Regions from separate parts of the Homo sapiens genome. Here all the other regions are reported to be linked to region 3. Evidence: microRNA targets listed by miRTarBase, many of them from high-throughput screens and not tested one by one. Region 3 holds a microRNA gene; each other region holds the end of a gene's coding sequence.
Evidence for each region. Region 3 holds the annotated microRNA hsa-miR-6513-5p (UUUGGGAUUGACGCCACAUGUCU, at 3,567-3,589, shown strand). A microRNA usually pairs through its seed, bases 2 to 8, with sites in the 3' UTR of a target mRNA and lowers its output. Matches are read on the target gene's strand: a 7mer-m8 pairs with bases 2 to 8, a 7mer-A1 pairs with bases 2 to 7 and ends in A, and an 8mer does both.

Region 1 (5,072 bases), not on the chromosome of region 3:
AGGCTGAGGCGGGCGGATCACTTGAGGTCAGGAGTTCAAGACCAGCCTGGCCAACATGGTGAAACCCCGTCTCTACTAAAAATATAAAAACTAGCCGGGTGTGGTGGTGGACACCTGTAATCCCAGCTACTTGGGAGGCTGAGGCAGGAGAATTGCTTGAACCCAGGAGACAGAGGTTGCAGTGAGCCGAGATCACGCCACTGCACTCCAGCCTCAGCGACAGAGTGAGACTCTGTCTCCAAAACAAAACAAAACAAAACAAAAAACCCCCCAAAACCAGAAATTGATTAAGGGCCAGGCACGGTGGCTCACTGTGCCCGGCTTACAGGTGTAAGGCTCCACACACGGCCTAATATGGGTTTTGCCAAATGCGTAGTGCCAGGTATTCATCATTACAGTATTATACAGAAGAGTTTCACCACCCTAAAGATCCCTGTCCCTCTGCCCACTTTTTCCTCCATCCAGCTTCTGGGAGCCAGAGGAACCCAATAACATCCACGATGAGGACTGTGCTACCATGAACAAAGGTGGCACCTGGAATGATCTCTCTTGCTACAAAACTACGTATTGGATTTGTGAGCGGAAATGTTCCTGTTGAAGCCCAGGGCCGAGGCTGGGGGTCCATATCTGAGTGTCTCTTTGAGATGAGAATCTCCTGCCCTTTCGTGGACGGCCTTGCCTCTTCGTGAGTGGACACACAGATGTGCCTCAAACAGGATTGGCACCCTGGATGCAGCAAGTTCCCAGGGGTGCAAGTCAGGCTGTTTCTAGAGTGAGGACTTGGGCTTGCCCTAGTAGATGGTGAGCTGGGAGGATGCTCAGAGCTTGGTGGTGGGAGGTCTCCCACTTCTGGGGTTGAAAGGATCTTCACTAAGTTCCTGATCATGACTCTTGGGAAGTGATACTAGCCCTGAGGACCCTGGGGCTGGTGTTGAACCTGGGATGAAATATCCTGGCGCCTGTGAACCACAAAGAGCTGGGACTGGGCTCCTTTTCCTGCAGCCTCAAACTTCTGGGCTCAGGTGATCCTCCCATCTCAGCCTCCTGAGTAGCTGGGACTACACATGCGCACCACCATGCCTGGCCAATTTTTTGTAGCATTTAAAGAGAGGGAGTCTCACTATGTTGCCCAGGCCAGTCTCAAACTCCTTGCCTCAATGGATCCTCCTACTTGGGCTTCCCAAATTGTGAGGATTACAGGTGTGAGCCACTGTGCCTGGCTCAAAATTATTATTATTATTTTTATAGAGATGAGGTCTCACTCTGTTGCCGAGGCTGGTCTCAAACTCCTGGGGTCAAGCAATCCTTCCGTGATGGCCTCCCAAAGTGCTGGGATTACAGGCATGTGTCACCGTACCTGGCCGATATTTTTATTTTTATTTTTACTTTCCCCATCTTTTCCTTTTTTTTTTTTTTCCAAACAAAAGCTTTGAAAGTGGTGACAGAAAAATTTCCCTTTGAGCTAGACCTCTAGATCTGCCTCGCACAGAAATACATTAAGTGGGCTGGTCTCATGTAGTCCCCACATCATTGCAAATTACAAACCTAAAAATACAGAACATCAGCGGAGAAGACAGGAGAGCTTCTATATTCACCCCATGTCGTCCTCTCCAGACACTGCTTCCTTCCTGGTCTCAAACAGCACAAATAACCCAGAAACCATCAAAATTATTTTTGACCAGCAACTTTCTCAATGTCTTGGGTGAGGTTTGCACAAGCTAAGTGGCAGAATCAGACTTTTGCCAGAAGACTTGGCCCGTGGAACTTCTATCCTTTTTTTTTTTTTTTTTTTTTTTTGAGATAGGGTTTCATTCTACTACCCAGGCTGGAGTGCAGTGGCACAATCATAGCTTACTGCACCCTCTGCCTCCTGGGCTCGAGTGATCCTCCTGCCTCAGCCTCCCAAGTAGCTGGGACTACAGGCGTTCACCCTCACACCTGGCTGGCCCATGGAACTTCTAGAAAGGCATACCAGCTGAAAAGCAAGACCCCTACATAGTGTGGCCAGGCAGGCCATAACCTGGTCATATCCACACAGGACAACGATGGACCTATCTGCCAGCACGTGCCCTTGAGCTATCTGTGGGTTGTAACGTCTTTGATGATATAATTCACTTTACTTGCCAGGCACAGTGGCTCACGCCTGTAATCCCAGCACTCTGGGAGACTGAGGTGGGCTGATCACCTGGGGTCAGGATTTCGAGACCAGCCTGGCCAACATGGTAAAATCCTATCTCTACTAAAAATACAAAAAAATTAGCTGGGCGTGGTGGCATGTGCCTGTAATCCCAGCTACTCAGGAGACTAAGGCACGAGAATTGCTTGAACCCAGGAGGCGGAGGTTGCAGTGAGCCGAGATTGTGCCACTGCACTCCAGCCTGGGTGACAGAGCAAGACTCCATCTCAAATAAATAAATAAAAATAAAAATTCACTTTACTTCTGTGTGGACTTTCCTGGGCTATTAGCTCTTGCAATGTTAGTGCTTCTCAAAATGCCACTATGTTGGGTGTTCCTTGTCTACTGTGTGTTAGTTTGCTGGGGCTGCCATAACAAAGGACTGGGTGGCTTCAGCAACAGAATGCATTTTCTCACAGTTCCGGAGGCTGGATGTCCAAGATCAAGGTGTTGGCAGGGTTAATTTCTTCTGAGGCCTCCTGTCTTGGCTTGTAGATGATCCTCTTCTCCCTGTGTCTTCACCTGGTTCTCCTTCTGTGTGTCTGGGTCCTAATCTCCTCCTCCTCTTCTTTTGTTTTTGAGACAGGGTCTCGCTCTGTCACTCAGGCTGGAGTGCAGTGGTGTGATCTCAGCTCACTGCAACTTCCACCTCCCAGGCTTAAGCATCCTCCCGCCTCAGCCTCCTGAGTAGCTGGGATTACAGGTGTGCACCACCGTGCCTGGTTAATTCTTGTATTTTTTGTAGCAACGGGGTTTCACCATGTTGCCCAGACTGGTTTTGAACTCCTAGGCTCAAGCAATCTGCCCACCTTGGTCCCCCAAAGTGCTGGGATTACAGGCATGAGCCACTGTGCTGGGCCTACAACGACCACTTTAAAGATCCTGTCTCCAAATACAGCCATATTAGGAGGTCCTGGGAATTAGAATTTAAACATATGCATTTGGGAGGGGTGGCACAATTTGGCCCATAACATTCACAAACTGCCAGAGTGACCCCCACCCGACCCTCCTGCCCTGGCCATGTGACAACCAAAAAATACCAATTAGAGGGCTGGTACTACTCCCAGCTAGGCATAACTCAACATAGTATTCCCTTTGGACAATCCCTGAATTGCATCCAAGGGTGGGTAGACATTCTCCAAACCAATCAATTTATTTTTTTTTTTTTTGTGACAGAGTCTTGCTCTGTTGCCCAGGCTGGAGTGCAGCGGCGTGATCTCGGCTCACTGCAACCTCTGCTTTCCAGGTTTAACTGGTTCTTCTGCCTCAGCCTCCTGAATAGCTGGGATTTCAGGCACGTGCCACCATGCCTGGCTAATTTTTGTATTTTTAGTAGAGACAGGGCTTTGCCATGTTGGCCAGGCTGGTCTCGAACTCCTGACCTCAAGTGATCCGCCCACCTCAGCCCCCTAAAGTGCTAAGATTACAGGCGTGAGCCACCATGCCTGGCCTTATTTTATTTTTTGAGACAAGGTCTCACTCTGTCGCCCAGGCTGGAGTGCAGTGTTGTAATCATAGCTCACTGAAGCCTCAAACACCTGAGCTCAAGAAATCCTCCGTCCTCAGACTCCTGTATAACTAGAACTACAGGTGTGCCCCCACCACACCCAGCTAATTTTAATTTTTTTTTTTTTTTGTATAGACAGGGGTCTTGCTTTGTTGCCCAGACTGGGCTTAAACTCCTGGTCTCAAACAATCCTCCTGCTTCAGCCTCCTAAAATACAAGGATTGCGATCAATTTATTGATCAATAAGCTCCCTTAATCAATAGCAGAATCTTTCCTGTTTTGTCTGAGAACAGGTGCTTATAGCAAGGAGACTGTGAGGAGAGCAGGTGGTGGGAGAGGTCGGAGCTGATTTCACTTCCTGTTTCTTTGATTTGTTTTAAATCTACTTGTTCTTTTATTTCGTTATTAAAAAAATTTTTTTTGAGATGGAGTGTCACTCTGTCACCCAGGCTGGAGTACAGTGGCATGATCTCGGCTCACTGCAACCTCCTCCTCCTGGGTACAAGCGATTCTTGTGCCTCAGCCTCCTGAGTAGCTGGGATTACAGGTGTGCGCCACCACATCCGGCTAATTTTTGTATTATTAGTAGAGACGGCATTTCGCCACTTTGGCCAGGCTGGTCTCGAACTCCTGACCTCAAGTGATCCACCCGCCTTGGCCTCTCAAAGTGCTGGGATTACAGGTGTGAGCCACTGCACCCAGCCTCGTTATTTATTTTTAAGAGATGGGTTCTCAGGACGTGGCCCAGGCTGGAGTGCAGTGGCATTTCACAGGCACGACCCCACTACTGAGTTTTGGTTCTGTCTGTCCTCTCTTCTCACCTCTGCCCACCTCTGCAGCTGCCCTGATGCATCACTACCAAAGCCAGCTCCTGTACTGTCCGCAGCCTGCTGAGTGGGTGGGTGTCGTGTTGTAAACCCTCCACCCAGGGGACTGTTATGTCAAGCAACTTTATCTGGGGTCAGGGGAAGTTCCCACATTTCAGAAGAGGGAAGTTGTTTTCTGATATGCGTATTGAGAAATGGGGAAGCAGGGGTCTGTGGTCACGTCTCTAGGAGGCCCCTGGTGGAACTGGTCCCAACCTATCTCCCTTCCACATCTCTCATGATTATCTAATTGCAGAGAGGTAAATATGAAAGAGGTCACTTTTTACCACTTTAGGTCCAGGGGAGCAACAGTTGGATAAAAATAATAACCATGGTTTATCAAACATATATTGTGTGGTAAATAAATGCAGTGGCTCTCATTGAATCTTCACCATGACTTTGTGAGGTTGGAATATTTACCAACGCCCGCCAATCTTTTTTTTTTTTTGGGCAGAGTCTCACTCTGTCTCCCAGGCTGGAGTGCAGTGGTGTGATCTCGGCTCACTGCAACCTTTGCCTCCTG
Region 2 (5,072 bases), not on the chromosome of region 3:
GCTTCTGGAAGATACTGATGTCTCGGCCATTCCCAGTGAGGTCCAGGGAAAGGGGGGTGTCTGGAAGGTGATCTTTAAGACCCCTAATCAGGACACTGAGTTTCTTGAAAGATTGAACCTGTTTCTAGAAAAAGAGGGGCAGACGGTCTCGGGTATGTTTCGAGCCCTGGGGCAGGAGGGCGTGTCTCCAGCCACAGTGCCCTGCATCTCACCAGAATTACTGGCCCATTTGTTGGGACAGGCAATGGCACATGCGCCTCAGCCCCTGCTACCCATGAGATACCGGAAACTGCGAGTATTCTCAGGGAGTGCTGTCCCAGCCCCAGAGGAAGAGTCCTTTGAGGTCTGGTTGGAACAGGCCACGGAGATAGTCAAAGAGTGGCCAGTAACAGAGGCAGAAAAGAAAAGGTGGCTGGCGGAAAGCCTGCGGGGCCCTGCCCTGGACCTCATGCACATAGTGCAGGCAGACAACCCGTCCATCAGTGTAGAAGAGTGTTTGGAGGCCTTTAAGCAAGTGTTTGGGAGCCTAGAGAGCCGCAGGACAGCCCAGGTGAGGTATCTGAAGACCTATCAGGAGGAAGGAGAGAAGGTCTCAGCCTATGTGTTACGGCTAGAAACCCTGCTCCGGAGAGCGGTGGAGAAACGCGCCATCCCTCGGCGTATTGCGGACCAGGTCCGCCTGGAGCAGGTCATGGCTGGGGCCACTCTTAACCAGATGCTGTGGTGCCGGCTTAGGGAGCTGAAGGATCAGGGCCCGCCCCCCAGCTTCCTTGAGCTAATGAAGGTAATACGGGAAGAAGAGGAGGAAGAGGCCTCCTTTGAGAATGAGAGTATCGAAGAGCCAGAGGAACGAGATGGCTATGGCCGCTGGAATCATGAGGGAGACGACTGAAAACCACCTGGGGGCAGGACCCACAGCCAGTGGGCTAAGACCTTTAAAAAATTTTTTTCTTTAATGTATGGGACTGAAATCAAACCATGAAAGCCAATTATTGACCTTCCTTCCTTCCTTCCTTCCCTCCCTTCCTCCTTCTCTCCTTCTCTCCTCCTCTCTCCTCTCCTCTCCTCTCTTTCCTTCCTTCCTTCCTTTTTTCTTTTTCTCTTTCTTCTTTATTTCTTGGGTCTCACTCTCATCACCCAGGCTAGAGTGCAGTGGCACAAAAATCTCGGCTCACTGCAGCCTTGACTTCCCAGGCTCAGGCTCAGGTGATCCTCACACCTTAGCCTCCCAAGTACCTGGGACTACAGGCACGCACCACCATGCCTAGCTATTCTTTTGTATTTTTGGTAGAGACAGGGTTTTGCTGTGTTGCTCAGGCTGGTCTGGAACCCCTAGGCTCAAATGATGTGCCCAACTCGGCCTCCCAAAGTGCTGGGATTACAGGCATGAACCGCCATGCCTGGCCCTTGATTTTTCTTTTTAAGAAAAAAATATCTAGGAGTTTCTTAGACCCTATGTAGATTATTAATGAACAAAAGATTAAACTCCAAATATTAAATAGTAAGCCTGAAGGAATCTGAAACACTTGTACTTCCAATTTTCTTTAAATAATCCCAAATAGACCAGAATTGGCCCATACCATAGAAGAAAGAATTGGCAGTCAAAAAAAAAAATACCTTTTGTAATGTTTGAAAAATAAAGCTGTTTGACTTGTCAGGTGTTTTCCTTTCTCAAATCAGCAAATTCTCTCTGAGTGCCTGGCTTTGTGAGACACTGTACAAGGAGTTACAAGACTACAGCTATAACCTGCAGTTGAGCAGTTATAAACCTACAAAATGGGCCCTGCCCTCAGAGAGGTTCCAGTCTAGATGAGGAGCTGATCTAGACAGGTAAAAGGCTAACTAACCCTTTGTGTAAATAAGTTCATCACCCCAGTAAAAGTGTCATCACCCAGTGAATAGGACCACCTCTGCCTGCAGATTTTTGTTGTTGTTGTTGTCATTGTTGTTGTTGTTTTAACCTGGGAAGTGTTCTTCCTGCCTTTCTGCTAGGTGTCAGATAGATGGTCCCAGAGCTAGGTGCTGTGTCAGGCCCTGAAGACACAGATGACTCAACCTAAGCTTTACTTTCCAGAGGTCCACAGCCTGAGAGGTGTCCCCAAAGAAAGGGGGACATGAGGGGACTGCATGCTTGAGAGCAGGGTTGTTTAGGGCAGGTTTGGATTTAGTGAGCAGGCTGGTTTGCTTAGAGAAGGCTTTTAGTGGCAACAAAGGATGAAGAGGAGAGAAAAGGAACTCACATTTATTGAGGGCCTACTGTGTGCAAAGTGTTTCATGTATATCTCATTGAATGTATACAGCCACCCTGTTGTGGTATAATTTTGCTCTTTATAAAGAGAAAGACCGAAGCTCAGATGAGTTAAGTGGTCTCCTCAACACCAAAATGCCAAGAAGTGATGGAGCCTAGACAGAAGCCCAGAACTTTCTGACTCACACTAGTCCATCCTCTACCATCACGATGACTTTCAAATTGTGCTCTGCAGTTCTGCAGATTTTCTAGCAGTGCCATCTCCAAAATGTGTTTTAAACTCTTTATTTTTTTAATTATTATTAGTATTATTTTGAGACTGAGTCTTGCTCTATCACCCAGGCTGGAGTGCAGTGGTGCAATCTCAGCTCACTGCAACCTCCGCCTCCCAGGTTCAAGCGATTTCGTGCCTCAGCCTCCCGAGTAGCTGGGATTACAGGCACCCACCACCACGCCCAGCTAATTTTTGTATTTTTAGTAGAAATGGGGTTTCACCATGTTGGCCAGGCTGGTCTCGAACTCCTGACCTCAAGTGATCCACTCACCTCGGCCTCCCAAAGTGCTGGGATTACAGGTGTGAGCCACCATGCCTGGGCTAAACTCTTTAAGTCTCTAGTAAATGCAGCTAGATTCAAATGGGCTGATAACCAAATTTTAACACATCAGCATTCACCACCAGGTTTACTTTTATTTTCAGATTGGCTCATTTTGTGCAGACCTTAGAGCAAAGTTTCCTTTATGGTATCTGTGTACGTATCCAAACTTCTTTTAATTGTTCACAGATTTTAAAAGCGGTAGCACCACATGGTTGTGTAGATCAGACCTGTGTATTTAGATCAGACCTGTGTATCACGTAAGTGTGTGAGTGCAGTGCAGATGAGCACCATTTAGTTATATGTGCTAGGCAAATCTCCAACACAGTTGATGTGTAGTCTTGTGGTAGATTTGTGCATACTGTAAGCAAATTGCTTAGCTTCTCTAGACATCAGTTTCCACATCTGAAAAATAAGAAGATGAGAGTACACGGTTGTTATGAACAAATGACTTAATGCTTTTTAAGCACGTTGCATGACATCTGGAACACAGAAAGCCCTCAATACATTGAAGCTCTTAGGATTTTCACGATGTTCCTGTCTGCTCAATGCATGCTTTCTTTATTGTTCTGACAGTTGTGTGGTAACAAGCTAATATGCTTCCAGTTGACTTCCAGTCTACCCTGGTGTTAGAAACCGTTTCATCTCTTATTGTAAATTTGAGTGCTTGTTGTTTTTTATATTTGTGATGACTCTTCCAGCAGTTGTTGACAATTGTTAGAGGTTTGACTTTTAAATAATTACTTATTTTTTCTGATTGTGGTTCAGTTTAACTGAAGAATATCCTGAGATTGTAAGAAAAGCATTTTTTAAAAGGTATCACTTGTGATCATTTATCTTTCTAAATTCTATTTTTAATACTGTTCCACCAAAGTGATGCAGTGGTTACCATGACACCCTAATTTCATGTGTTTTTGTATTTATGAAAATAGTTTCATTGTCATTTATTGGCGGTATACAAAGTAAAATGTTATAAATGTGAAGTTATAAAATAAATATATGCTAATAAAATCCTGAGTTTTTCTGTTTCCTATATCGTGGTCTCTATAAAGTACTGCTTGAAGAAGGAGCTTTGTTACTGAAAAATTTTGAGAGATAAGTTGAGAAAATCAAGCTAAAGCCAAAAGGTCTTAGAATCCTGTAGGCAAGAAAACCTGAAAGCAAAAAAATGCTTGAACAAGAATACTTGAACTATGTCTCTGGGGACAAGGGAGAGCTCGGTCCACCCATTATCGATTTCTCTTTTAAAATATACAGAAACAACAGATGGAGGTCAGTTGCCTCAGAGACCCCCCAGCTCATTTGCTTAGGAAAGTAACTGTACAGATAAATTCCCAGACTCTATTCTGCCAAGGGTGAATGACCCTGAAGGTCGAATATTGCTTTTCTGGGCTGAAGTCACCCTTTTTCTTCTTCTTCTTCTTCTTTTTTTTGAGACAAGGTGTCACCCAGGCTGGAGTATAGTGGCACAATCTCGGCTCACTGCAAACTCTGCCTACCAGCTTCAAGTGATTCTCATGCCTCAGCTTCCCGAGTAGCTGGGATTACAGGGGTGCACCACCACGTTCCAGCTAAGTTTTTGTATTTTTAGTAGAGACAGGGTTTCACTATGTTGATCAGGTTGGGCTCGAACTCCTGACCTCAGGTAATCCACCTGTCTTGGCCTCCCAAAGTGCTGGGATTACAGGCATGAGCCACCGTGCCCAGCCTGAAGTCACCTTTTATTCTATGGAGGTATATGGGGGGAAATTCCTCTTGCCTTTGGCCTTCTTGAAATTGCTTCTCCTTCTTTTTTCTAAAGTGCAATGGGGGAGTATCTTTCACTGGGCCATACATCCTGCAGACCAGCCCATTAAAGAGGAATGTCCCAAGGGGGCCCAACGCCATCTCCCACTCACCCAAGCAAACTCTCCAAGGGGTGGTCTCATCCTATACTTCATACTTCTCCAGTCCTGACTCTCAAATACAGGCCCCAAGATTCTTGAATCACTGCTGAGGATAACTTTCCACCAGTGCTGTCTGGTGAAGACTGAGGCCATCAGCCTCCTGCCTTTTTAGGCCTTTGGTGTCACCTGCCATGCACCTGCACCCACCATGTCCACTAGGCCACCCCTCCTCTTGGGTTCTGCTGCCCATCCTAAATGCAAGACTTTGCTCAGCAGCTCTCGGCTTTGCTCTCCTTTCCCAGCTATGCCATGCTTCCAACTTACCTTCTGGACATTCCACGGTAT
Region 3 (5,072 bases):
CCCTGCCACCTTCCCCTCTCTGAATTATCCCAGTTGTCATAAAAGAGAAGAGATAAGACAGTCCTTTATTTGATCCCCGAACTATGCAATGTGCCCTAAAAAGAGACGCTGGTCTCTCTTGCTTCCAGCAGAGCCTCTGAGAGCCTCTGGTGTCTGCTGACCTGCATCTGGGGGTGTCCTCCTTGGGGATCCTAAAGCCCCCTGTAGATGCTCTAGAAGAGGTGGTGGCCCTGTCGAGCCCAGACTGCCAGGGCTTGTCCTTACTGGGGATGCAGGGGCCCTCTAGGGGCTTCCTTAGCTCCTCCTAAGCCTGCATCTCTGCTACCTCAGAGGGGACCACCAGGCCCAGAGGACAGTAACTGGCAGAGGAGGCATAAGAGCACCGCATAACATGAAGGACCTGGACCCAGGATCTGGAAGGCCTCCGTCCTGGTTATGCCACTGACCTGCGAGTTCTGGGGTTCTGGGGAATCACTTCCCTGTTCAGGGCCTGCATTCTCTCATCTGAAGTGAGCATTTGGGGCTTATGGCCCTGAGGTCCCTTCCAACTCCAGTTTGGGGTTCCCTCCCCCTGGTTTCTTGGCCCTCCCCTGGCTATGGGGCTCTTCCTGCTGCAGGGAAGGCATTCCCTTGACCTTGTGGCCTGACTCCTCAGCTCTTTGTCCTCCCTGCTAGCACTGCACCTGGAAGACAGGTAGAACTCACAGAGAGCCTGGGATTCAGAACATCTGTCTCCCCCTCCAGGGTGGGGGTAAGGGGGAGGGCGAGGGGCCGTGCACTCACTCTCTCTTCCCTAGCAAGGCCAGAGAGCAGCTGTGGTCGCAGGCTGCCGCATGCCTTTCTGACACGCCACCGCTGTTATTTGAAGGAACCAGAAAGTCCTGTCTCAAGCTGGCCCTTTGGCACAGCCTCCCTGCCCCCAGCCCCTGTACCACCCACTCCTGCTTCTCAGGCTTCCTGACTCAGCCTGCCACTGGCCCCCGGGTCCCTGGATCCCTTCCTCCTCGGGGCCTGGCAGCTCTGGCACTGGGGCTAGCTTGTTTTCCTCCACTTCTTCCCCCGGCTCTCCACTTTGAGCCTTGGCTCCAACCCAGCTCTGGCTTCCAGGCCTGGCATCCCCGTCAGCTGTGGCAGGGGCAGAGCTGACCCTTTCAGAGGGTCCCAGCTGGCCCTGTGAGTCGCCAGGAGGCTGTGCCTGGCCCATCTGGCTTCTTCGCTGGTTCTGCCATCAAGCCACCAAAACTGGAAGGTTTTCTTAAACCACAACAGGGAGTTCCCAGGCTCCCTGGTTCCCTCTCTCCTCAGCGAATCCTTCCTCCTGCTTTCCTATGGCTGGGGAGCTGCACAGTGAGAGGCCTGTGGACAAGAAGCAGGCGCAAAGGCAGGAGGGACAGGAGCCCAGTTGGTGGGGAGGTGGCCTGTGGACAGCAAATCACACGCTGCCCTCTAAGGAGAAAATAGGTGGTGTTCCTCTCCACGGAGGCAGCCTGGACAAGGCTGGAAGTGGGCCCATGAGGCTGAGTGAGCTGGGCCTGGGCATTCACGATTGCTTTTCTCCTCTCCCATTTCAGGTCCCAGCAGCTGGGGTTCCCCCTCAGCCCGTGAGCAGCCATGTCCAACCCCAGCGCCCCACCACCATATGAAGACCGCAACCCCCTGTACCCAGGCCCTCCGCCCCCTGGGGGCTATGGGCAGCCATCTGTCCTGCCAGGAGGGTATCCTGCCTACCCTGGCTACCCGCAGCCTGGCTACGGTCACCCTGCTGGCTACCCACAGCCCATGCCCCCCACCCACCCGATGCCCATGAACTACGGTGAGTCCTGGAAGGGCAGATGGAAGGTGGGTGGGAGGGACAGCACTTGGAGCAGATGAGGCCACCGCCTCCTGCCCCTTTTCTCTTCTAGTTTCCCTTAAATCCCTTTCTCATCTTCTCTGTTGAGATCTCTCCCTCTGTTTCTGTCTTTGTTACCCTCCACTTTTTGCCTCAGCAACTGGCCCCCAGCCACTTGCTGCCCCCTTTGTTCAAGGAGATCCATGAGGCATGTCCCAGAACGTACACACCACAGGAGAATGGGGCTGGGCCAAGTAATGACTCCTGAGGGGTTACCTCAGGGCACCAGCTCTGTTTCCCAACAAGCGGCCAACAAGCTGCTGCCACCTCCCAGACCTGTCGACTTCCTTAGGAACTCCTTTGGGAACCTGAACCACTTTCCTCATCCTTTAAAGTGAAATCTGACTTTTGCAAAAGACATTTGGAGCCAAGTTTGGTAAACATCATGGCAGGGACATGCTTGTGTTTGGTCAGAAATGAGGTGAGGCCGGCCGCGGTGGCTCACGCCTGTAATCCCAGCACTCTGGGAGGCTGAGGCGAGCAGATCACCTGAGGTCAGGAATTCGAGACCAGCCTGGCCAACATGGCAAAACCCCATCTCCACTAAAAATACAAAAACTTAGCCGGGTGTGGTGGCGTGCACCTGTAATCCCAGCTACTCAGGAGGCTGAGGCAGGAGAATCGCTTGCAATCCCAGGAGGTGGAGGTTGCAGTGAGCCAGGATCGCACTACTGCACTTCAGCCTGAGCAACAGAGCAAGACTCTGTCTCAAAAAAAAAACCAAAAAAAAAACAAAAAACAAAACAAAACAAAAAAAGAGGCCGGGTACGGTGGCTCATGCCTGTAATCTCAACACTTTGGGAGGCTGAGATGGGCGGATCACGAGTTTGAGACCAGCCTGGCCAACATGGTGAAACCCTGTCTCTACCAAAAATACAAAAAATGAGCCGGGCGTGGTGGCATGCGTCTGTAATCCCAGCTACTCAGGAGGCTAAGGCAGGAGAATTGCTTGAACCCGGGAGGTGGAGGTTGCGGTGAGCCGAGATCACGCCTTTGCACTCCAGCTTGGGCAACAAGACCGAAACTCCATCTCAAAAAAAAAAAAAAAAAAAAAAAGGAAATGAGGTGAAGTTAGAGTGCAGTGAGTCTTCCTGGGTGGCTCAAGCGTGGATTTTAAAAGTAGTTCCCAAAGAGGCATTCAGGCATTCAGGCATTCAGGGAATGTTTGCAGCCCTGCAGCATCTCTGAACCCCAGAGGGGTGTCAGCCAGCTCTCACCTGGACATGTGCGCTGGTGCGGATCTGCGCATGGGTCCTGCACAGTCACGCACACCCTTTGCACACCTGCCTCTGTGAGGCTGATGCAGATCCCTGTCTTCACCTCTATCCCTGCTGCTGCACAAACTGCGCTCTGCCGCCCTCCTTTTCTCCTACCCTCTGTCCCCATCCCCTGTTCTGCCCTGGCTGGCTGCCCCAGTGGATGCCCATACCTGCTCCTGCCTGGCTTCCCCACTACATCGTGACCCCCCAGTGAACCCCCAGTGGCGTGGGCTGGGCACACAGGAGCCCTCCACAGATGCACGTGAGGAACGTTTCCCACCTAAGCCCCCTCGTGACAGGCCGGCTCTGGGTCACTCTGAGGGTGTCTAGAAGACCCCAGCTTGGGAGAAGAGTTCCTGTTATAACACTTGTCTTTTGGCTGGAGATCCCTGAGACTTTGAGATTGTCAGGGAGGCTTTGGGATTGACGCCACATGTCTCAGGTCCCCAGCTGAGTCAAGTGTCATCTGTCCCTAGGCCCAGGCCATGGCTATGATGGGGAGGAGAGAGCAGTGAGTGATAGCTTCGGGCCTGGAGAGTGGGATGACCGGAAAGTGCGACACACTTTTATCCGAAAGGTAAGATACGCGCTGGGAGGTGGGTGTACCTGGGGCCCCTCAGGCTGTGGGAATGGGAAGTGGGTAGGCCACAGTAGCCCCAGGGCATCAATTCCATGAAATACACTGGCTGCCTGTCTTCTCTAGCCTTGTCTGCTTCTCAGAGGGGCACCTGGCTTCTCTAACCCCAGGGTTCCCTCTCTTTTTGCACCTCTCTTCTTGACCATGTTTTGGGAGGACACATTCAGTCTGGGAGAATCTCCTAGGTGGGTTCTGCCACAGCGCCCGCCTTCCCCAGACATCTTTCTCCCTTTAGACTATAGGCAGCTTGGAGCCAGAAATGATCCTACTCGCTTGTAACCCACCCTCTCCATCTCACAGCTGCATAGAGCGTGCAGACTGAGCTGCTGGGAGTGCAGAGGCCATACTGGTAGAGTATGGTGGCCAGGCAGGGCAAGTCAGTAGTCACCGAGGCTGGTGTTGGACAGGAGGGGAGATGGCAGGGAGCATGGGAGCGGGGCTGAGGAAGAAGTGCACATTGCCTCTGAGCCAGGCATCTCACTGGGGTCGCCTCTGGGCCAGGCTGCAGCTAGGGAGGGTTCTTGAGTGGGAGGAAAGTACTGGGGGCTGGCAGCTTCCTGGGGCAGGCCAGGGGTGCCGGATGGTGACCCATGCCCGGCCGTCTGTGTCCAGGTTTACTCCATCATCTCCGTGCAGCTGCTCATCACTGTGGCCATCATTGCTATCTTCACCTTTGTGTAAGTCTCTAGGCTTTGCCACCCACTCCTACTGCCCTGGGGGTTCAGGGTCACCTGCTGGGGGTGTGGGTGGCGGTGGGCCCTGCTCTCAGGGTGACCATGGGCAATTAGAGAAGGTGAAGCCAGGGCTGCCTGGCTGGCCTGGGTGGGGCAGACAAGCCTCAGGGTGACTACTCCTGTCCTCCTGTGCCCCACAGGGAACCTGTCAGCGCCTTTGTGAGGAGAAATGTGGCTGTCTACTACGTGTCCTAGTGAGTGTGTGCTCCTCTGTGGTTGGGCAGGGAGGCAGGGGTGGCAGCTTCTGTTTCTAGGTGACCAGCTTTGCTCAGGGCAGGATCAAAATGCTTTTTGAGAGGGCCCCCAAGTTGGTGCCAGTTTCCCGTGCCAGAGGGTGTGGGTGTGCGTGCCCAGATGAGTAGCAGACCCCTAGAACTCGAGAGCAAGAGTGGGACCTGCTGGTGGTGGCGTGCACGCTGCGCTGCAGCCCCCATGTCCTCTCAGCCCGTCAGCTGCAGCCTCCCCAGACCTCCTTCCTGGCCGGAGCCTGGTGCTTCAGAGCATCTCAGTGACCCTGGCTGGGGGTAATCTCGTTCTTGCTTCCTGTTGAG
Region 4 (5,063 bases), not on the chromosome of region 3:
GAACCTCTGTGCATGTGCATGTGTGTCAGCATGTGTGCGTGTGCATGTGTGTGCACGCGTGTGTGCACGTATGACTGTGCGCACGCGTGTGTGTGTGCGCGTGTGTGTGTGTGTGTGCATAAAGCCAGAAGAAATTTCTCAGGTTGCAAGTTGTGTCCTGCCAGCCAACAGTCAAGGTAATTTTGAGGGAAATAACATAATCAGCTTTTTCTACAAGGAAAGGAAGCACATGAAAATATGATGAAATAGGTCAAAGAGTGGCCAACTTATTTCCATTTCCATTTCCTGGAAAAGCTCCAGGGACTGAAAGTCTTGAGGAACTGTATCTGTAGTTTTGTTTGTTTACTTGTTTTATTGTATCTCTTAATGTTTGCATGGTTTTTAAATCTAGATTTAACAGTAAAATTGCATTAGTGTTTGGTCAGTTACATTTGTACTTTAGATTGGGGTTTATAACAAACATAATGTTTATAATTTAAACGTAAAATACATTAACATGAGATCCTGGCACTTACAATCTTACCTAGGAGCCTAAAATTCAAAGCCAAGGCTCTAGACACTCATTGGAGAATCTCATCCTTTAAAATTAGATCAATTGCAATATTTCTAAAGAATGAATCCTGCACTCTGTATATGTGAGACTTATATCAAGTAGCCTGACCCTTGAGAGAGATGCACCTGTCTTGTCCTTTATTGCCTGTGAAATCCCAGGCAAGTCTGTGGGTAATTTGGCATTTCTGTTTTGCTCATCTGCCGAAAGAAGTTGTTGGAGGTGACTCTTCTCTTTCTCTCTCAAGCTGTTGTACTTCAAACCCTTTGGTTTCTGGCTTTCAGATCACCAATAATTGAGGTGAAATAGCTGCAAACAGACTGGCCACTTGACTACTTAGGGATTTGATTATTATTATGATAGAAATAGGTAAGGAGTTATGAAACTGACTTTATTTCTTTTCCTCCTGGGGTGAGCAAAAGAGCGGAGGAGTAAATAAAATATTTTTATTGCCAAGACTATGTTGATTTTTTTGGCCATCCCTCATTCACATTTTAGTCAGTAGGAAAAGTTCCCTGGGTCTAATAGCTAAATCTCTGAAAAGGGGGTAAGGAAATGGAAGAAAAGGATTAATAAATAATAATATTTATTGAGTACTATGGTGTGCCAGACCTGCTAAAACCTTTTAAGATTACCTCACAAATCTATAAGGTCTGTATTATAATTATGACCAGTTTAGAGATGACTGAAAAACTGAGAGAAGTAGTGGTTTGCCTCAAATTCCCCATCTAGTTAGTGGCACAGCTATACCAGTTTATTTATAGAGTCCCTATAAATCCCAGTTAGCCTGGGACAGTCCCAGTTTACATCTTGAATCCTGAAGTAATAACGAATGGTGTCTCCTGTTCCATTTCAAAAGTGGACTACACAAATTATATGGTCACTCTATCTCAAGGTTTCTCAATCTTGATTTGAGACATTGACATGTTGGGCTGTAAGATCCTTTGTTATAGGGGGCTGTCCTGTGCATTGCCAGGTGTTTCACAGCATCGTTGCCCCCTACCCAGTAGATGCCAATAGCACCCTCCACTTCAAGTAATGAAAAGCAACAATGACTTCAGACGTTGCCAAATGTCCCCAGGAGGGCAAAATTGCTCCTAACTGAGAACCTACAGCATCTAAAGCTTATATTTATACAAATTTAACTACAAAAGGACAAAACAATCTATTTGTCACAGCTGAACCTATGCAGTAGTGTGGCTGGCATACACCCTGTACTCAATAAAAGTTATTTCTTTTTGTACAGATGGGATCTCGCTATGCTGCCCAGGCTGATCTTGAACTCCTGGCCTCAAGCCATCCTCTGGCCTTGGCCTTCCAAAGTTCTGAGATTACAGGCAAGAGCCACTATCCCTGACCTAAAAGTTCATTTCTTTGGGGTGTCACTTGGCTTTCCAATTGTAGAGAGGTGCAAGGGCTAAACAAGTAATGAAAAAGATGCCTAGAAGGGCTCTTGTGATAAAAATGGGTTTGTTGCAATTCTTATTAGAGAAAACTGAAATAGTGTAACTACAAAGTGACGCAGCAACCTCCTGGCTGCCCATTCTAATGATATGAAGTTTGAATCTTGATTCCACTGGGGCTTTTGCCTTAGTAATGGACATAAAAGCTAACGTGATAAGAGAGTGTTACAGTGAGTTTCATACTGCAGCAATCTTCTTCAGTATTAATTGCTTATCAGTGTTCTATTTCCTCCTATTCTTAGAAATGACCACCATTTCTTTCATACCACCATTTTCATTTATTAGCAATAACAGAGGAAATACCAATAGCACCAATTCAAAATGAATCCACATGACGTGTTTTATCCTTACAGCTGTAATAACTAGTAACTAACATGGATTGGAAAGCACTTCGCAAATGTAAAAAGTGCTGTACAGATACATTATAATTATCATCATTAATAAATTAGCCCGATTCTCCTAGTTCAAAAGGCACGTAAGGTCAGATACATGGGCTTCAGTGGGGCAAAATGATCACAACCTACAATGTAGCAATGGTTCACATGTGTTGGTAACAAGTTTTACCCCATGCAATCCTGCAGAGCTGAAGTTACACACCCTTCAAAATATGGGAGAATGAAGCTAAAAGTAGACAAGACAGTTTTTTTTTAAATTTAATGCTTTTTTTAAATAACAGACTCCTACCTCTTTTATATTAATGCCTAAATAGATAATATAATTAATCAAACTTCTAAATTGTACATTATAACAAAATTAAAATGTCTTATTTAAGGTGACAGCAAATTTTGTTACTTTCTATGAGCTGATATTTCAGATACCATTAGAATTTCAAAGCATTCTGCAACTTCAAAGAGGTCAGATTGGTAAAATTTGTGCTTGCACACCCTCATGGAATATTGTCAGTATTCATTCCAAAATTGTTACTAGAACAAAACAGCTTTATCCATTCCCTTGCCAGCAGAAGTCTTGGCACGAGATGGCTCTTGGCTGGACCATAAATAAAATTCCTTGAATCACCAGTATCTTGATTTAAGAAAGAAATTTTACTGTGTCTTTCATACACAAAAGCTGATTAACAATGGTTAAAAAAACACTACTCCACTTTTTCACAGGTGTACAAAAGGAAATATAATGGAATTACATTCAACAATAAAGCTTAAAGTTCACTCTAGGTAATAGTTGCATTAACATTCACATACACAAGCACAGAGTAAGTATATTTCAGGAGTCTTAGCATAGCATACAGCATACATATGGGAGATTGATTTCAGGTAACATCATAGGTGTTAGTAAGATTAGCAATTCAGAGTGTTATAGAAAAGGAAAACTAAACCAAAGAGAAGGTGTAGGCTAGCACACCAAGACAAGTCACAGAATTAGTAGATTGAAAAATCTGCTCACTGTATGAGAAAACAATATTTTTCTTCAATTTTTGGGTCTTGATATATAGTTGGTTAGAGAAGGTTGTGTATCAAAGTGCACATAATTGTTTCTTAGAAAAGAGAGAGAGAGAGAGAAAGAGAGATCATTTTATTTAGTAATACATGCAAGAGGCAGCCCCAGAGTGACCTGAAAGAGTAAAGCTGTGATTGGCAGGTGGCCGATATAATACAGATGTTTCAGGCAATTCTCTTAAAGCACTTCTGTAGCAGCAATGATCATTTAAATGGCTGTAGACTGAATTCTCTTTTGAGGAGAGTTTAGGGGAATTGTATTCATATTTCTCTTTAAAGATTTATAGCTATAGACTTTCTCTTTTTTTAAATAAATCTATGAAACAACAAACAGCGAAAGGTGAGGTGTCGGGGTTTTCTTTTGCTTTTGCATAAGTATTGGAAAAGGATCTGGCCTTTTCATAAACATTGTGTGCAAAAGAATTTTTAATAAAGTGAGCACAGGACATGTATAGGAAACACATCAGATCTGCTTCTGTTTCCCAGGGTGGTTCTCTGTTAAAACACTGAACTGTTGGCTTGCAGGTATGATGCAGATTTTAGGTATAATGACGTCACAGCCAACAGACTTTAGGGTCTCCTAAAGCCTTGTCAGTGGGGGTAGTTTTGTCTCCTAGAGGGTGGCTGCCACCTCTTGAGTTGTAAGATTTAGAAAGTCTGGTCCCTTTAAGTTTACACTTCCCCTCCATACTGATAACTTCCGCTGTTTATTTGTCTTTGTTTTCTTGCCTTCCTTGTACCAATTAGTCTAAGCTGGCTCGTCTCAGCCAATATCTGGCACTCGCATACCCGCGGTAGCCACACATACCCAGTGGCCACAAACTCCCAAGCTGCTCAATCTCAAAACTTTTCAGCCTGCCCTGCAAGTGTCATCAAGACAGGATCCCCGGAGCACAGGGCAGAGAGTCCAACCTCTCACTGGCGGGGCTGGGAAGCCTCTCCTTTGCGGCGGAGGAGAAAGGAAACTTGGGTCTGCTTTTTAGGTTCTGAAAACAAGCCAGAGTGGAGAGAAAGAGTTAACACCAGACTTAGTAAAGCTTTTACGACAAAACCTGTTAAATGCGTTCTAGACAGACACAGGGAACTTTCTGCAGATTTCTGAGGTCTCTAAGAGGGCTCATGTAGATAGGAAAAAGGAGCAGGGAATTGCTACATGGGAGAGATTTGCCATTATTACAAAAACTGGCTAAGTGGCTTGTTTCCATTTGAGGACCTCACTGGTCACTGTTGTCAGTCGTGCTGTTCCCTTTCTCTTTTTTCTCCTGGGTCTTGTTACCCTTCTTCTTTTTCTTCTTTTTCTTGGTCTCCTCCTTTTTGCCGAAGGTTATGAAGTCACTTTTGTCAATTTGGCTGTTAGTAGGCTCCTGCCGGATGGAGATGATTGCAGGAGATCCTGGGATAATGAATTTGTCGGGCAACTCACCGGGACCGGATTGTTTGGGGTTGCCTGGTCCGTATTTAAAGGTCCAGCTGTTGCTGTTGACACCCGCACCGACTGGAGGGGACACTTCTCCTGCCTCTGGTTCTGAAAGACAAAACATTACAAATCATTAACAGGGTCAACACATGCTCTTGATGCCACACTGCTGGTAGAGT
Region 5 (5,072 bases), not on the chromosome of region 3:
AACCCGGGAGGCGGAGCTTTCAGTGAGCAGAGATTGTGCCACTGCACTCCAGCCTGGGAGACAGCGAGACTCTATCTCAGAAAAATAAAATAAAATAAAATAAAATACTAAGTTGTCCAACATAGTTCTCATTTTCCTGTGTTTACTACTGTCGTACTTTGTTTAAATATCAGGCTTCAAATTATTTCAATAAATGGATCTCCTTTTGAGGGCCACTGTTTTGGGGGCTCCTTAAATGCAGGCACTCTGCCTACTGGGTGACGCAGCAGTGCCCAGTACCCTCAGTACAGGAGCTGGGGTCTCTGTGTTTTCGGGGAGGACCTTGCAAATTCTCGAGTGGCAGCTTCCATGGGTGGCCACTGTTGGAGGGGACTCCTCATTCACCCACCCTTTGTTTACTGGTGCCTGCCTTTCCCCACCCACACAGAGGGCCGGGCCTGCGCGGTGGTCTTTGACTGCAAGTTCATTGAGACATCAGCGGCATTGCACCACAATGTCCAGGCGCTGTTTGAAGGTGTCGTGCGCCAGATACGCCTGCGCAGGGACAGCAAAGAAGCCAACGCACGACGGCAAGCAGGCACCCGGAGGCGAGAGAGCCTTGGCAAAAAGGCGAAGCGCTTCTTGGGCCGCATCGTAGCTCGTAACAGCCGCAAGATGGCCTTTCGCGCCAAATCCAAGTCCTGCCACGACCTCTCGGTTCTCTAGGTCCCACCCGCTCCCACTATGGTGGGAGACGAACGGAAGGGTTGGTGGGCTGGCCCAGCCAACTGCCCCGGGTGCCTCAGAGCAGGCTCAGACTCTGGGTCCCTCGGAGCTGCCAGCCGGGCACCCCCAACCTCATGGTCATGGACAGATAGACAGTGCTGCCCTGCGAAGTGGCTCTCAGGGGCCAGTGAGGGCTGGGCCCACAGAGATGCATGCGCAGGCTCATATGCGTCCCAAGCAGCCGCAGCGCAGCCGCCGGGCAGGCCTGCGTGCCGGGAGAGGACTCTGCCTTTTTTCACAGCCCGGGTGTGCCTGCCCTGGAGGGAGGCTCTTCAGTGCGGTAGCTATTTGTTTACATGCAGATTTTTGTAATAAAGGCTATTTCCTGATAGTCATGGCTGTTGACTCTCTTTCCTCCTATCTGGGCGCTTCAGGAGCTGGAAGGATTTCTGAAGTTGAGGGATGGGGGCTCACTGCCCCACCCTAGTGTGTGGCCATGATGTGTTAATGTGAGGGTCCAGATTTAGCCAGCTGGGATGGGCATCGGGTCTGGTTAGAGGTTCAAGGAGCAGGAGACACAAACCCCTCCCAGTCCCTGTTATCCAGATTCTTCTCTTTCTGCACTGGGGCCTGGCGTTGCCCAACTGATTGAGGGTTCAATCACTTCACTGTCCATAAAGGGAAACAGGCTGCTCAGGGGAGCACATTCTGCCCTGGGTCTCACAACCAGGCAGGAACCCTGGGTCTCACAACCAGGCAGGAACCCTGGGTCTCACAACCAGACAGGATCTGGCTCCACAGCTGGTATTTCTGCCCTGTTCCCTCTTGAGGGGCTGGAATCAGCTGAGGTTGGGGATAGAGACCTCCGAGGGGTGGTTTGTGAAGGCACACACAGCTCCACATGGCTCCTCCACCACTTCACTGGGGTTGAGCTACGGAGGAGGCACTCACTGTTCTCTCTACCATGAGTATCCAGGCCAGAACATTCCATGCTCAGCATTGGCTAATTCAGTTTTGGTGGGAACAGCTGCCGGGAGCCCGCCCTGCCTGGAATGAGAGGTCTTGCATTTGTATAGGAAGGTGTACTCGTGCTTATGTTTAGGGATGCACCTGTCTCCCTGCCCACCCATGCCCATGGCTCCCTCACCCTCGGCACAAGTGCTGCTAAGAGTTTTTATCTACATGGTCTCAGGAAAAACCATCCCCATCTGGTGCTGGGTGGGAAGTGGCTGAGTGGGGACTGGTATACAGGTCTGCCCATCTCCAAAGCCTGGAGGCAGCCTGGGGCGAGGTGGGGGGCAGTTTCTAAGAAGGTTCTGGGCCAAGGTCCATACATTCCTTCCTTAGTTCAATTTATTCAATTTATTCATTCCCTCACCCTCGGCACAAGTGCTGCTAAGAGTTTTTATCTACATGGTCTCAGGAAAAACCATCCCCATCTGGTGCTGGGTGGGAAGTGGCTGAGTGGGGACTGGTATACAGGTCTGCCCATCTCCAAAGCCTGGAGGCAGCCTGGGGCAAGGTGGGGGGCAGTTTCTAAGAAGGTTCTGGGCCAAGGTCCATACATTCCTTCCTTAGTTCAATTTATTCAATTTATTCATTCCACAGACTCCAGGGAGCCCTGGCAACCTGGTTAGAATCCTGATTGCAGCTTATTGAATGGCAGGAGGAGGCTTGAGGGCTGCCCCTCCATGTACAGGGGAGCGCTGAGATTCACCCACGTGCTCCCCAGGGCAGAGGTAACTGCTCAGAGCTGTTGCTGCTCTGCCCCTCCTCCCCACATACTTCAAGGAATGCAGAAGGCATGGTATTTTCAGATCAAGTGAGGGTCCCCAGGCCTTCCTGGCTCTGTCACTTATTGACTGTGTGACCCTAGGCAAACCACTCAGCTTCTCTGTGCCCCAGCATGTGCCCAATGCCCCTTCAGAACGCAGTATGTGGCATAATGAAGGTATGTGCTCAGAGCAGTGCTGGGCACAGAGCAGGAGCTTAACACGTGTGAAACCCCCTTCAACCTCCCCACACTACACTGCTCCAGGCTGGGTGCCAGAGTGACCCTGAAGCAGGCACTCAGCTTGTGACAAGGCTGGGGGCAGCTGGGGGTAGCTTCTGGCCTGAGAGAGACTAATCAGATGTACAGTGGGAAGGACTTCGTGGGGACCATGGGAAGCTCCAAGGCTGGAGAGGGACTGGAGACCTTCTTCCCACCCTCTCCCCTCATTCCAGACTCCCAGGCCCCAGAAGCATCTCCTGGCTCTGCTTGGCTGCCCTCATTGCGGGGAGAGCCCCTGTTCAGCCCTGCAACTCCCTCAAGGTCACCTGAGCCAGTTTAATCTTCTTAGGGGCATGAGACTGCCCACTGTCTCAGCCCTGTCACTGTTGAGTGGCCAGTGTAAGGACTTCGGGAGCTCATAGGCTGCTGCACTCCCCCACCACAGGTCCCCCTGGGGGGGGTGGTCTGGAGCCCCAATACCCACTTCCACTCATGTACTGCTCACCCATCCTTTGCAACCTCCAGCTCCTTGTCTTAGTTCCACAAGCCATGCGGAGCTGCCAGGGCAGAATGAGAGCCAGGTCATTCCTGAGTCCCTGAGTTCTGCTCTCAAAGGGCTCCCAATCTAATGGAAGAGGCAGACAATGACAAGCTGGTGTCCTCTGTGTATTAATAGAGATAGCACATGGCATGGTGTGAGGGGGAGGGGCATTCCCAGAGGAGGCTCCTGAACAAGCCTGGGAACATAGGGGAAGTTTCCTGGAAAAAGGAATATTTGAGCTGAGCACTGAAGCATGCATGAGCAGGTGCTTACCACACAGATGAATGAGTGGGAAGGGTGTTCCATGCAAAAGGAACAGAGTGTGAAAAGGTGTGGCTGCAGACACTGGAGCCTGGGAGATAAGTCAGACCAAGTCTGGAGCCACAGAAAAAGTAACGTCCAGAACCAGAGGGCCAAGGAATACCTCCTGGGCTGTGCTGGGGTCGAGGGAGTGCCAGGCCAACCATCTCCCCACCTCCTGGAGCTGGCAGTCACGGATGCTGAGCAGCTCCTGGCTTTCCAAAGTCAATGAGTAACTTGGGGGGCTGGGCGGGGCCAGGCCTGCTGCTGTGGGCCCAGTGGCCTTTTCCACTCCTGAGCAAGCGTGGCTGAACCCTCCTACCTGCTCAAGTGCCCTGCCTTGCCCCACCCAGCCCAGCCTGGCCAGAGCCCCCTGGAGAAGGAGCTCTCTTCTTGCTTGGCAGCTGGACCAAGGGAGCCAGTCTTGGGCGCTGGAGGGTGAGGGGCTGGGAGTGGAGGGGAGGGCATGGCTGAGGCTGAGGTTGGTGGTGGGGAAAGGAGAAACACTGCCCTGTCCTCGCCATCTGGGAAAGAATTCCCAGGGCCTCATCTTAGAGGGGTTGTCGATTTGTCGCTGCTCTGCCTGCCCAGCTCCATGACAAGGGCTGGAAAATGATGAGACAAGGGCCGGGCTCCTGCTCCGGGGGTTCTCCTTGTCTAGAAGGTGGCAGTGGGAGGCAGGACAGTCCCAGAGGCCCTGAGCTAGGAGGACTCCTCCTGTGGTCAAGTCCTCTGTGACCTTGGCCAGACCCCAGCATTCAGGCCTTGCCTGCAACAAGAGGTGACTTCAGGAAGTGACCCTCCAAGTCTTCAGGAACTTTCCAGCTTCAAACTTTTGTGATTTGGGGGATTGCTAGAAAATTACCACTTTGGGATCTGCGGCCTGGGGAGGCTATGGTGAGAAGGAGCTGGAGGTCTGGAGGTGAAATTCTGATAGAGTGCTTGATGGACCAAGAGCCTAGAAGCAGGGTGGCTGGGCCTGGGGGCCTTGGTGGGCCTGGCCGAGGAGCAGGGCACTACCCTGCAGGAGATGGAGAGCCTCAGCTCCTTTGGAGGGGAGGAAGAGAAGACTAGTCTGCAGTACGATCCCACTAGTTGTGTGTGTGGGATGGAAAGCCCCTCCCTACCCACCTGGGCTGGATCCTCACTGCCGTGTCCCTCAGGCCTGTCCTGACCATGGTCCCTGCCTGGCTGTGGCTGCTTTGTGTCTCCGTCCCCCAGGTGAGCTAGGCCCTGCCCCCTCTCCTTCAGGTCTTGGCTTTGGGGGTTGACACCCTTGCCCCCAACTCCACCTGGACCAATTGCACTGACCGTGAGAACGGTGCAAGGCATGGGAGGGGTCAGAGCTGGGACTATAGAGCCACTGTGGGATGAGGAGGTCAAAGACCAGAGCGCGGGTGGATGGACTAAGGTACAGCCAGGCCCTGGGAAGGGGCGGAAATTCCGCTCTTCTGTTGGGTCTCAGTGCCCACGCAGGAAGATAGAGCCTGGTGACAAGGTGAGAATCCTCCCACAGGCTCTCCCCAAGGCCCA
Region 6 (5,072 bases), not on the chromosome of region 3:
AAACAGCAGGGCCTCCGTATATGATTCTAAGTATTGTGGATGTCAGTGACATTTGTGTCTCTTCACAATCCCTTCCCATTGTGCTTTTCACCCTGACCAGGCTCCTGAACAAACCCAGGTTACAGATTCCTCCATCAGCAACATAGTCTCTTCGATTCCTTTTTCCAAAATTAGAACCATTTCCCATGCCACTCATCTGGTTTCTTAGTCCATTTAACAGTCCTGCAATTCAGATAGAGCAGTTATGTCGTTTAGACAACAGCAGTATGAATGTTTTTTTGTCTCTAGTCCCTCTTGATGAAAGAATGAAATATGAAAGTACAGTTACACCATTGCTGATTAATTTTTTCATCTGAGTGCATTTGAGTTAGAGATAAATGAAAGCATTTTTAGGCTTATTGGAATGACTCATCGCTTTCTTCCACTTTTAACTGTATAATTCTGTTTTATTTCAATGCAGGTACAGCCTGACTATTTGGACTGGAAAAAATGATAACTATTCCGTTGAAGATTTACTTTACATTAGAGACCATTTTGACAAAAAACAAGTTTTCTATGACATCTTGGAACCACAAAACCATGAATTTAAACAAGCCATTGGAATCAAAGTTAATCTCTAAGAAGAAGATTCTCAATTATTTCCTGTGTTTTGGTTTCATAATCCTTCTCTCCATTGGTCTGAATTAATTACCATATAAATTATGGTTATTGATTGACGTTCCAAGTCATCTAATCAAGAAACGTTTATTGTATGCTTACTCTGTGGGCATATGTCCTTATAATAGTGCACTTACATAAAAGATTTGGAAAGAAGAGATTTATTTACACACGTGGCCTAGTCTAATAATAATTCAGGAAAATGATACTCTGCACCCCTTCATAAAAATAGTTTTGATAAACTAAAGATGATTGGCAGAATCCATATGTCATAAAACAGGTATAAATCACATGTGCTTGGCACTTGCATTACAGAGATTATGAAAAATATGGTACTCTTTTCCTTTTTCCTAGAAAACTGGTTATTTTAGAGATAACAAAAAAGGAAGAGGGCTTTTAAAATGTTTTTAATTTTCACAGGGGTCAGCAGCTGTCTCATATCAAGATCTATTAATCCATTTCCTGAAACTGTAGATTAAATTAGATAGATCTAGAATTTCCATGTGATTGAGAAGCATGCTAGTGGCTAAGTGTTTTTTTTATATTTCTTATTTCTATAGTATCTGATTTATAGTGGACAATATACTGTTGGAGAGCAGTTTTAGTCTTTGTTATGTATCATTTGTTTTCCAAGTTTCTTACTGCCACCACCTTCATTCAGGTCCTTGTTCTACTAGTAAAACTTTATGAACTACTTTTTTCACGGCTCATTCCTCACATTCTACTCAGAGATCTGAGTTTTTCTGCTAAACAAAACTTTCTTTTCTTTTCTTTTTTTATTTATAATAATAATAATTATTATTATTATTTTGAGATGGAGTCTGTCTCTCTCACCCAGGCTGGAGTGCAGTGGCGTGATCTTGGCTCACTGCAGGCTCTGCCTCCCAGGTTCATGCCATTCTCCTGCCTGAGCTTCCTGAGTAGCCGGGACTACAGGCGCCCCCCCACCACGCCCGGCTAATTTTTTATTTTTTTAGTAGAGACGGGGTTTCACTGTGTTAGCCAGGATGGTCTCTATCTCCTGACCACATAATCTGCCCTTCTCAGCCCCCAAAGTGCTGGGATTACAGGCGTGAGCCACCACGCCTGGCTTTTTTTTTTTTTTTTTTTTTTTTTTTTTGAGACAGAGTCTTGCTCTGTTGCCCAGGCTGGAGTGCAGTGGTGTAATCTTGGCTCACTGCAATCTCTGTCTCCCCAGTTCAAGTGATTCTCCTGTCTCAGCCTCCCAAGTAGCTGGGACTACAGGTGTGCGCCACCACACCCAGCTAATGTTTGTATTTTTAATAGAGATGGGGTTTCACCATGTTGGCCAGGCTTGTCTCAAACTCCTGACTTCAGGTGATCCACCCACTTCGGCCTCCCAAAGTGCTGGGATTGCAGGTGTGAGCCACCACACCCAGCCAAAACTTTCTTAAATACCTCTTTCTTTATGCCAAATCAAAAACCTTCAAGGGCTTAAACTCAATTTTACTCAGTTTTCCTCTTTCAAGACCCTTCATAATGCAGTCCCACCTAAAAGTCAGTTTGTTGTGCTCCAGCACGGTTCTTCATTTAAAAAATTTATTCAACATCAATGGTTTCTAGATCCTACTTTAACCATTAATCTTAACTATTTAGTTATTTCACTAATTGACACGTGCATGTTAGCTATGTCTCCTCAGCTAGACTGTAAATTCCTTTATGGCAAAGGTTCATGCTTAAGTATCTTTTACAGTGCCTGGCATAGTCCTGAGAAAAACATCCAGAAAAATATGTTGCTGCTTTGATTTATTAACAAGTAATTTACTAGTGAATGTCCTAAAAGATGTAATTTGCCTTTTGTCAATCAACCATTTTTCTCCCAGAGAATAACATAGTTCTATATAGAGAAAAGATCTTGGGTTTTGAATTCAGACAGATTTTCTTTACAGCCCCACCTCTATCCCTTACTAGCCATAGACTTTGGGAAATCTTTAATGCCATTGACTCCAGGCTCACTTGTCTATAAAGTGGAGGTGGGGGAATAAAATTTCTCTTGTAGGGTTGTTGTGAGGATTATGTGAGATTCATGTAGTAGAGATATCTAGCTCAATGACATAGTGAATGCTCAGCAAAGTTACTCTTCTTTTAGACTTATCCTGTGATCATGTCCATTATAGCTAGATAGCACTAAGAGATACAACATCAAACATTGTAGACATATAAATACTTAAAGACAATTATAGTATTTCCACTTGAAAATTCAGCTCTAGTCAAATGGAATGCTTCTTGTCAAATCATACCTAAAACTTTACTATCCATGGTTGTTTGCCAAAGACAAAAGGTGCAATTTCATTATAAAATTTCAACTGCTATAGAAAATAACTTTTTAAATTATAGTAAATTAATTTATAAATTTTCTACAAAGACCATGCATTACTAAAGACAGGTGAATTTATAAATAAACTGCCTTTTGTTGAAGTTCAAAGTAAAACTCACTTGTCCAGAATATTATTTTTACTACTTAATTGTCCTACCTTTGATAATTTTTTTAAAATATTAATATTATGGTAAAATTATATATTGAGAAATCTATAAGCCTAATATCACTTAGTTTTTTTTTTTTTTTTGAGACAGAGTCTAACTCCGTCACCCAGGCTGGAGTGCAGTGGTACAATCTTGGCTTACTGCAACCTCCACCTCCCAGGTTCAAGTGATTTTCATCCCTCAGCCTCCCAAGTAGCTGGGATTACAGGACTGTGCCATCACACCTGGCTAATTTTTGTATTTTTAGTAGACAGGGTTTTGCCATGTTGGCCAGGCTGGTCTGGATGGAACTCCTGGCCTCATGTGATCTGTCCGCTTTGGCCTCCCAAAGTGCGGGTATTACAGGCGTGAGCCACTGCATGCAGCCTCACTTAGATTAATATTTAAAGGTGTATTTTAAACTGTTCTCAGGAACAAAAACGCATAAGAGAATTATAAAATGTATTCTGTTGGAAAGTAAAATTTTAATAGCTATCCATATGGAAAAAAATAACCTTGATCCCTACCTCATGCCATATACGAATAATTTGAGATGGATCTTAGGCCAAAATGTGAAAGCTAAAACCTTAATGCATTTAGAAGAGAATAAGGGAGAATGTTTTCAGGACTTTGGGGTAGGCATAGGTTTCTTGTAACCCAGAAAACACTAGCCATAAAAGGAAACATTGATAAATAGACTTTATCAAAACTTAAAACTTCTCAGAAAAGACACCATTGACACATATCTGACAGAGGGTATATTACTCCTTTAAACTATAAGAAAAAAACCCAAAAAACTGACTAAAAATGGGCAAAAGACTTGAATAGATACTTCACACAAAAAAAATAATTCAGATGGCCAAAAGAATATGAAAAGGAACTCAACAGTATTCCTTATTCAGGAAAGACAAGTTTAAGCCACAATAAATGCCAGTACATACCCACCAGAGAGGTTAATATTATAAGGACTAAAAACACCTTTTAGGAAAAAAAGGAAAACAGTTTGGCAGTTTCTAATAAAGATAAGTATATCTCTACCTTAAGACCCAGCCACTCTATCTGTAGCCATATACTCAAGAGAAAAGAGCTCATGTATTTACATTAAAAGACTTGTAAAAGAATGTTCATAAAAACTTAATAGCCAAAAACTAGAAACAACCCCAATTTTCATCAGTAAGAGAATTTATAAATAATGGTAGACTCATACAATGAAATTACTACACAGCACTAAAACAGTTTGAACTGATGTAACAATAAAGGTTATTAACAACATCATGCAAAAAAAAAGGCACAAATGAATACATATTCTCTGGATCCATTTATATGAAGTTAAATAATAGTCAAAACTAATACATGGTGCTAGAAGTCAGAATAGTAGTAACCTATACGGTTCTGTCGGGTTTTGTCTGGGATGGAGCATGTTGGAACTTTTTTGGGTGTTGAAAATGTTCTCTATCTTGTTCCGGGAAATGGTTATTTTGATGTGTACATAGGCAAGGCAAAAAACTTATTGAGTTGTCACATTTAATATTTGTGCATTTTACTGTATGTAAATTATATATCCATTTTCAATATATTTTAAAGGCCTTGATGTACAGAAATGCAATAGAATACTATGCAGAAACTTTTTAAAATTTTTTATTTTTTTGATACAGCATCTCGCTCTGTTGCCCAGGCTGGAGTGCAGTGGAATGATCTCGGCTCACTGCAACTTCTACCTCCCAAGTTCAAGCAATTCTTCTGCCTCAGCCTCCCAAGTAGCTGGGATTACAGGCATGTGCCACCATGGCCAGCTAATTTTTTTGACTTTTGATAGAGATGGGATTTCACCATGTTGGCCAGGCTGATCTCACACTCCCGACCTCAGGTGATCTGCCCACCTTGGCCTCCCAAAGTGCTGGGATTACAGGCATGAGCCACTGTACCTGGCC

Region 1: miRTarBase lists CLEC17A as a target of hsa-miR-6513-5p. Seed matches in the 3' UTR shown: 7mer-A1 at 1,179-1,185 and 7mer-A1 at 1,320-1,326.
Region 2: the mRNA of PNMA2 is a reported target of hsa-miR-6513-5p. Seed matches in the 3' UTR shown: 7mer-A1 at 1,363-1,369, 8mer at 1,552-1,559 and 7mer-A1 at 2,801-2,807.
Region 4: miRTarBase lists PCDHA6 as a target of hsa-miR-6513-5p. The part of its 3' UTR that is shown has no 7-base or 8-base seed match.
Region 5: miRTarBase lists RRAD as a target of hsa-miR-6513-5p. The part of its 3' UTR that is shown has no 7-base or 8-base seed match.
Region 6: miRTarBase lists FAM151B as a target of hsa-miR-6513-5p. The part of its 3' UTR that is shown has no 7-base or 8-base seed match.

Annotation. Positions count from the first base shown.
Region 1 is chr19:14,609,599-14,614,670 of GRCh38, forward strand. CLEC17A (C-type lectin domain containing 17A) reads left to right here. Exons shown (of 14, transcript NM_001204118.2): 14 at 466-2,437. The coding sequence ends at 598. It also overlaps a transcript of ADGRE3 not described here. Among named protein-coding and RNA genes, the nearest start is that of SNORA104, 10 kb to the right of the region's middle. RefSeq lists a silencer at 4,628-4,677.
Region 2 is chr8:26,503,481-26,508,552 of GRCh38, reverse strand. It overlaps PNMA2 (PNMA family member 2), which reads left to right. Exons shown (of 3, transcript NM_007257.6): 3 at 1-3,852. The coding sequence ends at 892. Among named protein-coding and RNA genes, the nearest start is that of PNMA2, 7.9 kb to the left of the region's middle.
Region 3 is chr2:218,278,681-218,283,752 of GRCh38, reverse strand. MIR6513 (microRNA 6513) reads left to right here and starts at 3,565; the gene lies at 3,565-3,628. All of the region lies in intron 2 of PNKD (PNKD metallo-beta-lactamase domain containing), which reads right to left. TMBIM1 (transmembrane BAX inhibitor motif containing 1) reads left to right here. Exons shown (of 12, transcript NM_022152.6): 2 at 1,572-1,813; 3 at 3,627-3,727; 4 at 4,400-4,464; 5 at 4,662-4,715. The coding sequence starts at 1,612.
Region 4 is chr5:141,009,556-141,014,618 of GRCh38, reverse strand. It overlaps PCDHA6 (protocadherin alpha 6), which reads right to left. Exons shown (of 4, transcript NM_018909.4): 4 at 2,272-4,992. The coding sequence ends at 4,682. PCDHA1 (protocadherin alpha 1) reads right to left here. Exons shown (of 4, transcript NM_018900.4): 4 at 2,272-4,992. The coding sequence ends at 4,682. PCDHA2 (protocadherin alpha 2) reads right to left here. Exons shown (of 4, transcript NM_018905.3): 4 at 2,272-4,992. The coding sequence ends at 4,682. It overlaps PCDHA3 (protocadherin alpha 3), which reads right to left. Exons shown (of 4, transcript NM_018906.3): 4 at 2,272-4,992. The coding sequence ends at 4,682. It also overlaps PCDHA4, PCDHA5, PCDHA7, PCDHA8, PCDHA9 and PCDHA10, and 7 more genes. Among named protein-coding and RNA genes, the nearest start is that of PCDHB1, 39 kb to the left of the region's middle.
Region 5 is chr16:66,917,709-66,922,780 of GRCh38, reverse strand. RRAD (RRAD, Ras related glycolysis inhibitor and calcium channel regulator) reads left to right here. Exons shown (of 5, transcript NM_004165.3): 5 at 428-1,096. The coding sequence ends at 705. CDH16 (cadherin 16) reads left to right here and starts at 3,896. Exons shown (of 18, transcript NM_004062.4): 1 at 3,896-3,977; 2 at 4,703-4,760; 3 at 5,056-5,072. The coding sequence starts at 4,716. RefSeq lists enhancers at 92-615, 616-1,139.
Region 6 is chr5:80,541,213-80,546,284 of GRCh38, forward strand. It overlaps FAM151B (family with sequence similarity 151 member B), which reads left to right. Exons shown (of 6, transcript NM_205548.3): 6 at 461-1,351. The coding sequence ends at 620. Among named protein-coding and RNA genes, the nearest start is that of ANKRD34B, 27 kb to the right of the region's middle.